2 separate regions of the Homo sapiens genome follow, and region 1 is linked to region 2. The links come from fine-mapping of genetic effects on plasma protein levels. Region 2 holds a variant in brackets. A gene starts in the other region. All regions are shown on their forward strands. Region 1 holds the start of DYNLT3 (dynein light chain Tctex-type 3). Region 2 overlaps TRIM58 (tripartite motif containing 58).

What was found. PIP is the chance, under the fine-mapping model, that this variant and not a neighbour inherited with it causes the effect. The UK Biobank Pharma Proteomics Project read protein levels with antibody pairs (Olink). The fine-mapping took linkage between variants from a reference panel, not from the people measured, so its PIPs are less certain.
Region 1: it holds the start of DYNLT3, and the variant in region 2 is fine-mapped to the plasma level of the DYNLT3 protein (UK Biobank, PIP above 0.99).

What each region holds. Positions count from the first base shown.
Region 1 is chrX:37,846,502-37,851,866 of GRCh38, forward strand. DYNLT3 (dynein light chain Tctex-type 3) reads right to left here and starts at 1,070. Exons shown (of 5, transcript NM_006520.3): 1 at 980-1,070. The coding sequence starts at 1,009. RefSeq lists a silencer at 734-843.
Region 2 is chr1:247,870,137-247,875,499 of GRCh38, forward strand. All of the region lies in intron 5 of TRIM58 (tripartite motif containing 58), which reads left to right. Among named protein-coding and RNA genes, the nearest start is that of TRIM58, 16 kb to the left of the region's middle. The variant G/A (reference allele first, on the strand shown) is at 4,772.

The DNA of each region.
Region 1 (5,365 bases), not on the chromosome of region 2:
CACTTAAAAATACTGAATGCTTTCCCTACCTACCTCCCGTGAGGTCTGGGGCAGAGCCTGCAAGTCTACATTTTTTTTTAAAAAAGTGCTTTATACTGGTGATTCTAATGAACATCCTAGATTAAGAATCATTGTATTGTAAAACGTAGGAAATAAGCAAGAGGTGACTATGAGGATGTTATGTGTCATAAGAATATAGAAATGGTTTCAGCTAAGTGAGAGAATGAAGTGGTCCATATGAAGAGAATGCTTAGTAGACTATTTTCAATTTTGTTTTTAACTTATGCTAGGCAAAAATTTCTAGGCAAAAATTCCTTTCCCAAATTAAAGATTATGAAAATACTTGATAACTCAAGATTAATATCACTTTAGTACTATAAAGTGGTCTGACAACTTAGTCTTTTCTTTGGAGTCCCCATCAATAACAGGGAGATAACAACTGACATCATGGGTTTCTGGTGAGGGTTGGGAAAGCCTGAGTCAGTAAGCAAGGGCTCGTAATCCATAAAGCACCTCCTTGCCTAATCCTGGCAAGCATTACCGGGAGCGGGAATGGCAGTGCCACCAGGACCCCGAGACTCCGAGCCATGGGGGCTGCAGCACCCGCGCTGAGGAAGCCAAGGGACGGAGGCAGCAGCGGGAAGACCCGTTTTCGAGGCCCGCCCGGTAGGAGGGCGGCGCCCGTCACCCCATGCCCACTCCTCGCACCCAAGTCAGGCCTCGTCCTCCCAACCCTGCCCCGACCCCACCGTCTGATCCGCGCGCTCCTGGCCACCCCTCCCACCCCGAATCTCAGGACTTTGGGGTGGGGAGAACGGGTCGGGCGGGGCGGATCCCGGGCCCAGGGGAGAGGACCCGGGCTCGGAGGACGCCGCACCCCAACTCTTGGGACCGCCCTCGCTGGGAGACCACCCGGCAAGAGCCCCGCGCAGAGGAAGGCGGGAGTGGGGGGCGCTCCCAGGTAGCCAAGGGGCGGTACCTCGTCGCAGTGGCGATGGTACTCCTCCATGGTAGCGCCGGCTCTCCCTGGGGCGGAGCGACACGCCGGTAGAGCACCGCGGCCGCGCACTGGCCTCCGGGGAGGCCCCACCCCCGTTTATGGCCTAGGGCCTTTCCCTACGCAATCCCCGCCTTTGTGTCGCAGTGGCGTCACCTGGCAGCGCTGGGCGGGCTTCGGGCAACGCCAGGCGTCACTTCAGGCCACGCACTTTTTCCTCGCTTCCTCTGCCCTTTCTGGAAACAAGGGATGAATGTAAAGAACTGGGAATGGCGCCAGTGTGGATCAGATGGGGTGACCTAGTGGCAGTTAGTCTAGACTCCGCACTAGTGGTTGAGTGCCCACTGCTGTGATTACTTGCACGTATTTGTTCATTCACCATCATGTGGCACATAAATGTAGTTAATTTCGTGGTAAACCAGCCACTTTGATTTGTCCACTTACTAGCTATGTTACTTGGAAAAATTCACCTCCCACAGCTTCAGTTTTCTCATATGGAAACTTACCATCATACCTATTTCACTACTGGTTGTAAGGATCTGATGAGAAGCTGTATACACGGCTCCTAAAGTAGATGCTTCTCAACAAGAGAACAATGACTACATTTTAAAATAAATGTAGTAATTTTAAATTAGTAATTTTAAAATAAATGTAGTAATTTTAAATTAGTAATTTTAAAATAAATTACTAATTTCCAGATGATCCTAGACACTTCCTCAAAACCTCACAATAAGTCAGAGGAGTTAGTTCTTCCATCACTGCTTTTATCAAGATGAAACTGAGGTATAGAGAATTTAATTTGCCCAAGGTCATACAGCCAGTAGGGTGTAGAAAAGGGACTTGAGCTCAAGTAGTCTGATAGCAGAGCCCAAGCTCTTAACCACTGTATTACTTTCCTATTGCTACTGTAACAAATTACCGTAAATGTAGTGCCTTAAAGAAACACAGTCCTGTTCTCTTACAGTTCTGTTACCAGTGTAGGGTGTCCAGGTTCTTGGCTCTTTGAACAAAGAATTGGACAAAACGCACAAACAAAGCAAGGAAAGAATGAAGCAACAAAAGCAGAGATTTATTGAAAACGAAAGTACACTCTACAGGGTGGGAGCGGGCAGAGAAGCCGCTCAAGGGCCGGGATCCAGAATCTTCTCTGGTCCAAATACCCCCTAGAGATTTCCCATTGGCCACTTGGTGTGCACCCCATGTAAATGAAGTAGTGGCCCACAATCAGAGGCTGAAGTTACAAAGGCCACACTCCTATGCAAACGTCTGATTGGTTGCAAGAAAGCAACCATCAGAGGCTAAAGTGAAGTTACAAAGTTGCACTTCTATTCAAACAAAGATTTGGCCCATAATCAGTTTGATTGGTTGCAGACAGCAACCAATCAGAGGCTGAAGTGAAGTTACAAAGTTCCACTCCTGTGCAAATGTCTGATTGGTTGCTTTTTGCTCTTTGGTTGCAAAAAGCAACCAATCAGAGGTACTTTAAATTTCCCATCTGCCCTGCAGAAAAGGTGGGGATTTGCAAAGGGAATAGCCTCTGGTCCTTTTGTTACTTAGGCATGGAAGGTATGGAAGGTTAGGGTTTTCCTTTTTTTTTTTTTTTTGAGACGGAGTTTCACTCTTGCTGCCCAGGCCGGAGTGCAATGGCGCGATCTCGGCTCACCCACGGCAACCTCCGCCTCTCGGGTTCAAGCGATTCTCCTGCCTCAGCCTTCTGAGTAGCTGAGATTACAGGCATGCACCACCACGCCCAGCTAATTTTGTATTTTTAGTAGAGACGGGGTTTCTCCATGTTGGTCAGGTTGGTTTCGAACTCCCGACTTCATCGACCTCAAGTGATCTGCCTGCCTCAGCCTCCCAAAGTGCTGGGATTACAGGCGTGAGCCACTGTGCCTGGCCAGGGTTTTCCTTTCAATTTAGTTCTATGAAGTAAGCGTGAAACAGTTTTAAGTTCCCTGCCTCCTGACCCTATTCTCCTGCCTCAGTTCTGGAGGTCAGAAGTCTAAAATGGGCCCATAGAGCTGCATGCCTTCTGGAGGCTCCAAGACAGACTCTGTTTCTTTGCCTTTTCCAGCTTCTAGAGATTGCCTGCATTCCTTGGCTCATGACCCCTTCCTCCAAATTCAAAGCCAGTAGTATCTTTTCTCCTCTCTCGCTTCTGCTTCAAAGGAAGTGTGAGGCATCTCTATAAACGAGAGATGTATGACTCTTGCCCTCCTGTTTCCCTCTCAAGACCCTTAACTTAATCACATATGCCATGTGTCTTTTGCACTCTGTATCATATTCACAGATTCTCAGAATTCAGATGTGGACAAATTTGAGGGGGAGCATTATTCAGCCAACCACAACACTTTTCTATTTTGCTCCCCAGAATCAAAGTTGGAAACCATTAGTCTTCTAGTCCATCTCCCTTATTTTACAAGTAAAACTGAAGCTGAGAAGATAAAGTAACTTCTACAGGGCACATAGGTGTTAACTGGACTCCTGGGCTTCTGAACCTCAGGCTCTTATTTTATGAACTTAGAACCAAACAAGGCTGTTTACTTGATAGTATGGTGTTTGTTATTGGTTCTCCTAAGTTGTGGATCATGCAGGGTTACTGCAGAAAAGTGACTGTAATTCATAGAGGAAGCACATCCTCTTTCAAGAATTTTTTTTACCAAAGTTTTCATCCTATGAGCAACTCCGGCAGTCTATTCATGAGAAGGATTCGTAGTGTCTTTGTGAACATCAGTTTTATTTCCCTAAAGAACTGTTTCTATGCCTGGGTGGGTTAAACCCTGAAGTTACCTAATCTTAATACTGCAAGAGCTACACCAGCACATCTCAAGTTTGTGTTATGTGATCATTCATGATGCATATAAAGTGAGATGAAGAAGTGTTGTTCCAGTTACCATTCCTGTGTAATAAATTACCCCAGAATTTAGCAGCTTATTTACTATATTATGCTCATGGATTCGTTTAGTCAGAAATTTGAACAAGGCACAGCAGAAATAATTTGCCTCTGCTCTGTGATGTCTGGGGCCTCAGGTGGGGAGACTCAAAGACTGGAGGAAATTCAATGGTGGGGACCAGAATCATCTGAAGACTTGTTCATTCACATGTCTGATATCTGGGCTTGGATGAATAAAATATTAGCACTTCCAACTGGAGCAACAACACATGGCCCCACCGAGTGGATTGGCTTCTTACCATCATGGCAACCTTAGGGTAGCCAGATCTTTTACATGGCAACTCAAGGCTCCAAGCATGAGGGTTCCATCGAGCATGGCAGAAGATATGTCACCTTTTATCACCTAGTGTCACGAGTTACACAGCAGCCCTTCTACCATACTCTAATCATTGAAACATTCACTCAGATTCAAGGGGAGGGGACACATAATCCACTTCTCAATGGGAGAAGTGTCAAATAATTTGGGGCTCATGCTTTAAAACTACAAGTGGGTTTATTAACTAGCATCCTGTGGTTGCAAGTAACAGAAGACCCAAATAGGATGAGCTGAAATAATGGCATTTATTTTTTTATATAACCAGACTGATATGGTTTGGATCTGTCCCCAGCAAATCTCATGTTGAATTGTAATCCCCAGTGTTGGAGGTGGAGCCTGGTGGGAGGTGATTGGATCATGGAGGCAGATTTCTCATGATGGGTAGCACCATCCCCTCAGTGCTGTTCTTGTGAGAGTAAGTGAGTGAGTTATTATGAGATCTGGCTGCTTAAAAGTGTGTAGCACCTCCCTCCTCTCTCTCTTCTTCCTGTTCTAGCCATGTAATATGTGCCTGCTTCCCCTTCACCTTCCACCATGATTGTAAGTTTCCTGAGGCCTCCCCAGAAGCAGGAGTCACTCTGCTTCCTGTGCAGCTTGCAGAACCACGAGCCAACTAAGCCTCTTTACTTCATAAATTATCCAGTCTCAGGTATTTCTCATTGCTGTAAAGCAATGAGAGAATAGACTAATACACAGACATACAGAGGCAGAGATATTCCAGGTTCGTTTAGTTGCTCAACAAATTTTGGGGCTTCTGTGCTTTTCATCTTTCCATGCCAATATCCTCAGCATGTCAGCAACATTTAGCCTCATGGTCATACACGGCTGCATTAGTTCTGGTATCGCTAGGAACAAAGATATCACGTTCAGTGACTAAGATGAGCATTTTCTGGGGTTGATCGGATTTTCTTAGGAAAGAAAATCTTTATTTCAAGTCCTCAGGAGTTTTCTCCTCAGGTTCCAGTGGCCAAGATTGGGCCACGTGACTCCCCACCGGGCAAAACATATGGGACAACAAATGTTTGTTTTTTCATTCTGTATGGTGAAAAGTGAGTTCTGCCAGCAAGAAAAAAAAAATTGATATAAAGTAAATGTTGGT
Region 2 (5,363 bases):
AGTGTTAGAATAAAGCTTCTTACAGTGTGTGATGGTCTCCAAGGGCCTTTAATTTAAAATAATGGGCATACCAGGGTGCCATATTTTAGGGTAAAATTCCCTGGTCTCCTTCCGTGGGAGAGTGCACCATGCCCAGAAAAATTAGGATTGGTATATTCATGAGCAGTATCAGAGTCACGGCCACCCATAGAGCCTGCACCACCATGCCCAGAAGAACGAGGATTAGTATATTCATGAGCAGTATCAGAGTCACGGCCACCCATAGAGCCTGCACCACCACGCCCAGAAGAACGAGGATTAGTATATTCATGAGCAGTATCAGAGTCACGGCCACCCATAGAGCCTGCACCACCACACCCAGAAGAACGAGGATTAGTATATTCATGAGCAGTATCAGAGTCACGGCCACCCATAGAGCCTGCACCACCACGCCCAGAAGAACGAGGATTAGTATATTCATGAGCAGTATCAGAGTCACGGCCACCCATAGAGCCTGCACCACCACGCCCAGAAGAACGAGGATTAGTATATTCATGAGCAGTATCAGAGTCACGGCCACCCGTAGAGCCTGCACCACCACGCCCAGAAGAACGAGGATTAGTATATTCATGAGCAGTATCAGAGTCACGGCCACCCGTAGAGCCTGCACCACCACGCCCAGAAGAACGAGGATTAGTATATTCATGAGCAGTATCAGAGTCATGGCCACCCATAGAGCCTGCACCACCACGCCCAGAAGAACGAGGATTAGTATATTCATGAGCCGTATCAGAGTCACGGCCACCCATAGAGCCTGCACCACCACGCCCAGAAGAACGAGGATTAGTATATTCATGAGCCGTATCAGAGTCACGGCCACCCATAGAGCCTGCACCACCACGCCCAGAAGAACGAGGATTAGTATATTCATGAGCAGTATCAGAGTCACGGCCACCCATAGAGTCTACATTTGGTTAGACTATGGGCTTAAAACTGTAGGTCATCTCTTATTAGCTGATATGAGTAACGTTACTTCCAGTAAATTTACATTTCCTTGCTTATAAAATGCTAAAAATAAATTGCTTGGAGGACAAAATGAAACATTTGAAAGCACCCCACCTCCTAAAAGTAATCAATATGAAAGCACTGCAAAGTTATCAATTAGCAAGAAGTTTGGTTTAATTTATTGGCTGAGAATTTGATGAGTTGCTTGAATTAGTGAGTCAATAAAGCCAAAAATATTGTCAGTTATTTTCATGTAGGAATAAGCAGTGTCACAAAAAATTAGTGTGTTTAGTCTGATTGTATTATTCTTTAAAACAGTATAGATTCAGTATTGTTTACAATTTCATTTTAAAATCTAATTTATCCCAAGTAATGAAAACTATGTCTAAATAGTGACTTCACTACTTAGAGGGAAAGAGTGTAAAGTCCCTTAATGAGAAAACCCATCTCTGCAGCATAGTACCCACGTTCTCCTGGGTAGATGAATGTATGCTAAATGCCCAACTTGATTAAAATCGTCATGGCACCCTCAGACTCAGCAACCTCATATCCATATTTGTTTTTATGGAATGAAATCATTCAAAATGTGTGATTAATTTTATCTCACCCATTCTTTTAAACATTGGAATATATCATTCAACAACAACAACAAAATACTCTACAATCCGTAGCTTTGTGTTGCAGATATGTACTTCACCAAAATACACAGGCTGTAAGTGGCTGACACAGAATATTGAAGAAAATCAAAAAGAGTATGCAAAGGGTAATGAGAAGTTCTAGTTTTGAATAAGGTGACCAGGAAAGACCCCGCCCTGCAGGGGATAACCCAGCAAATATATGATCTGGAAGAAAGCATTCAGGCAGCAGAAATGAGCGCCAAGGCCTGACGTGGAGGATGGCAGGTGTGTTCCAGGAGCTGTGAGGATGTCAGTGTGAGGACTCTGTGGCAGAGTAAATGACAGGAGGGTCGGAGAGACCAAGAAAGGGCTAGATAGGCAGGCCATGCTGAGCATGATACTTTATCCCTGAGCGAAATAGGACATAGTTGAAAGTTGTACCTAGAAAAATAGTTTGATTGGACTAATGTTTTATGAGGATCACTCTATATGCTTTCTTGTAAGTAAATTACAGAGAGGAGAAGATTGACATGGGAAAAGCAGTTAAGGGTCTTTGCAGTAATTTGATGAGAGATGATTATGTGTTGGAATAGATGTTATTACGGAAGGTGCCGCAAGATGGACAGATTTTTGTTATATACTGAAGGCAGAGCTGTTAAGATTTGCTGTTGGATTATATATGATGTGCTATAAACAGGAAGAGCCATGAATGATTCCAAGGTTTTGGATCTTGCGAACTGGCAAAATGTGATTGCCACTTATATTGATGAGGAAAGCGACAGTTGAAGCAGAAGAAGGGCACAGGGTTTTGGATATGTGGATGTTGCGATGAGTGCTAAATATTCAAATGTTGCTATCAAGTGGGCAGATGAATGTACAATAGGGAGTTTCAGGGTAAAGTTCAAAGCTAAGCACATGCATTGGGAATCAGTCAGCATATGAATGGAATTTTATCAAAGCAATGAACCAGCCAGCACCCGGGTAGATAGGGAGTGAGGTGAGAGAGAGAGAAGAAGTCCAAGTCTTGGGACTATAGGTTTCTCCAGTGGTGGTGGTGGAGGAGAAGAGAACAGCAAAGAGGATCAAGGAGTAGTGAGCAGTGAGGGAAGGGAAACATGGATGAGTGTTACCTTTGGAAAAGGGAGATTTTCCAGCACAAGTAGATTCTCAGTGTTGAGAGATACAGAAAAATCATTGAAGATGAACTCTGGGCCGGGCGCGGTGGCTCACGCCTGTAAATCCCTGCACTTTGGGAGGCCGAGGCGGGCAGATCACCTGAGGTCAGGAGTTCGAGACCAGCCTGATCAACCTGAGGAAACCTTGTCTCTACTAAAAATACAAAATTAGCCAGGCGTGGTGGTGCATGCCTGTAATCCCAGCTACTCGGGAGGCTGAGGCAGGAGAATCACTTGAACCCGGGAGATGGGGGTTGCAGTAAGCCAAGATCATGCCATTGAACTCCAGCCTGGGCAACAAGAGCAAAACTCCATCTTAAAAAAAAGACAAACTGACAAGTAACCATTCATCAACACGGAGGTCCCTGGGAAGATGGACATGCGCAGTTTGGTTGGGGTATGGTCACATCATGATGAAGAATTGAGTTTAGGAGAGAAGGGGTAGGGAGAGGAATGGGATACAGACCATATCAAAAGCCATTTCACAGATCTCTTTTGTTAGAAATGAAGCAGACCACTGTGCCGGAAGAGGAATGGCTTGGGAATACATGACCTGTTAGATTGTGTTAAATGCACAATCCATGGAGACCTACCTTTCAATCTCTGTTATTTACCTCTAGAGTTTGGGAAGACCACATAAACTCTTTGACTCTGAATCTACTCTTGTGTAATGTAGGGATGACAATGGTGACCCTCAGGGTGGTTACATAATAAAAATAATGCAATGCGCAGTTACGTGACCACTCAGGTTGGGTATCAATAAAAATTCACTAGACCGGGCGTGGCAGCTCACGCCTGTAATCCCAACATTTTGGGAGGCTGAGGCGGATGGATTGCTTGAACCCAGGAGTTCGAGACCAGCCTGGGCAACATGGCAAAACCCCTTCTCTACAAAAAAATACAGAAAACTAGCTGGGCATGGTGGTGTGTGCCTTCCCAGCTACTCAGAGGGCTGAGGTCAGGGGATGGCTTGAGTCTGAGAGGTGGAGGCTGCAGTGAGCTGTGATTGCACCACTGCACTCCAGACTGGGCAACAGAGCGAGACTCCGTTTCAAAAAAAAAAGTAGTTCACTGTAAGTGTTTAAAGGCAAATAAGTATAGTGGTAGTGGTAGTAGCAGTAGCAGTAGCAGTAGCAGTAGAAACAGTATTTGTTCTGATATTAAAAATCAAACTATATTAACATGTTAGTCTGATTTTGCATTGCTATAAAGAAATACCTGAGGCTGGGTAATTTATTAATATAAGGAAATATGCTTTATTTTGGCTCATGGTTCTGTAGGCTGTACAGGAGTCATGGTGCTGGCACCTGTTTCTGGTGAGGCCTCAGGACACCTACAGTCATGGTGGAAAGCAAAGGAGGAGCCAGCGTATCACATGGCAAGAGGGAAGCAGTGAAGTGGGGAGGCCCCAGGTTCCTCTTAAACGACCAGCTCTTGCATGAACGGATAAAGAACTCACTTATCACCAGTGGGATGGCACTAAGTCATTCATGGGGGATCTGCACCCATGATCCAGCACCCCCCACTAGGCCCCACCTTCAACATTGGGAATCACATTTCAACATGAGACCGGGAGGCGATACACATCCAAACCATATTATTTATTAACTTACTACTTATAAGCAATGCTAATAAGGAAATGCACTGAATATTTTACATCCCCCCTTCACTGAGGTTTCATATCTAGATGTATTTATTTATTATGTATATGGGTCAAATGTCTCATCAATCTCACTGGGACTTCAGAGTATCAGTATTTTTTATTGTTATATAACGCATAACTACAAGCTTATGTGCTTAAAGCCATACCATTTAGTAGCTCATGGTTCTGAAGACCAGACATCCAAGTGGGATCAGCTGGCTCCTCTGCTTAGGTTTTCTCAAGGCCCAAATATGGGTGTTGGCCAGGCCAGGCCAGGCTTCTGTGTAGGTCGGGGGAAGAACCTTACCTCCAACCTTATTCAGGTTGTTGGCATAATACAATTCTGTGCAAAT[G/A]CGGTACTGAGATTCCTGTTTTCTTGCTGGCTGTTGGTTGGGGGCTATTCTCAGCTCTGGAGATCACTCTCAGCTCTAGAGGTCACTCGTTTGTCTCTTCATGTGACCTTTCCATTTTCAAAGCCAGCAAAGAGATATCAAATCCACATCTTATTGACCTTTCCTGCTGCCACCAACCCAATAGCCAGAGAAAACTTTCTGATTTTACAGGACTTGTGGGATTTGATTAGACGCACCTTGATAATCTCTCTCTTGTCATATAGTGTAACATACTCATGAGGCTAACACCAGGGTGTGAAGGTCATGGGGTCCATCTTAGAATTCCGCCTACCACAGTAATATAACTTTGGAAGTAGTGGATTTAATATTAATAAAATTCTATAGATTTTTAAGAAAAAAATTCCTAAGGGGTTTATAAATTTTATGTTAAATGCAGAAGATCCTCCTAAGTGCACTCAAATGCTTTGGATGTAAGCCAGACATGGTGGTGTGCACCTGTAGTCCCAGCTGCTGGGGAGGCAGACACGGGAGGATTGCTTGAGTCCAGGAGTTTGAGGCTGTAGTGTACCACGGCTATGCCCATGAATAGCTC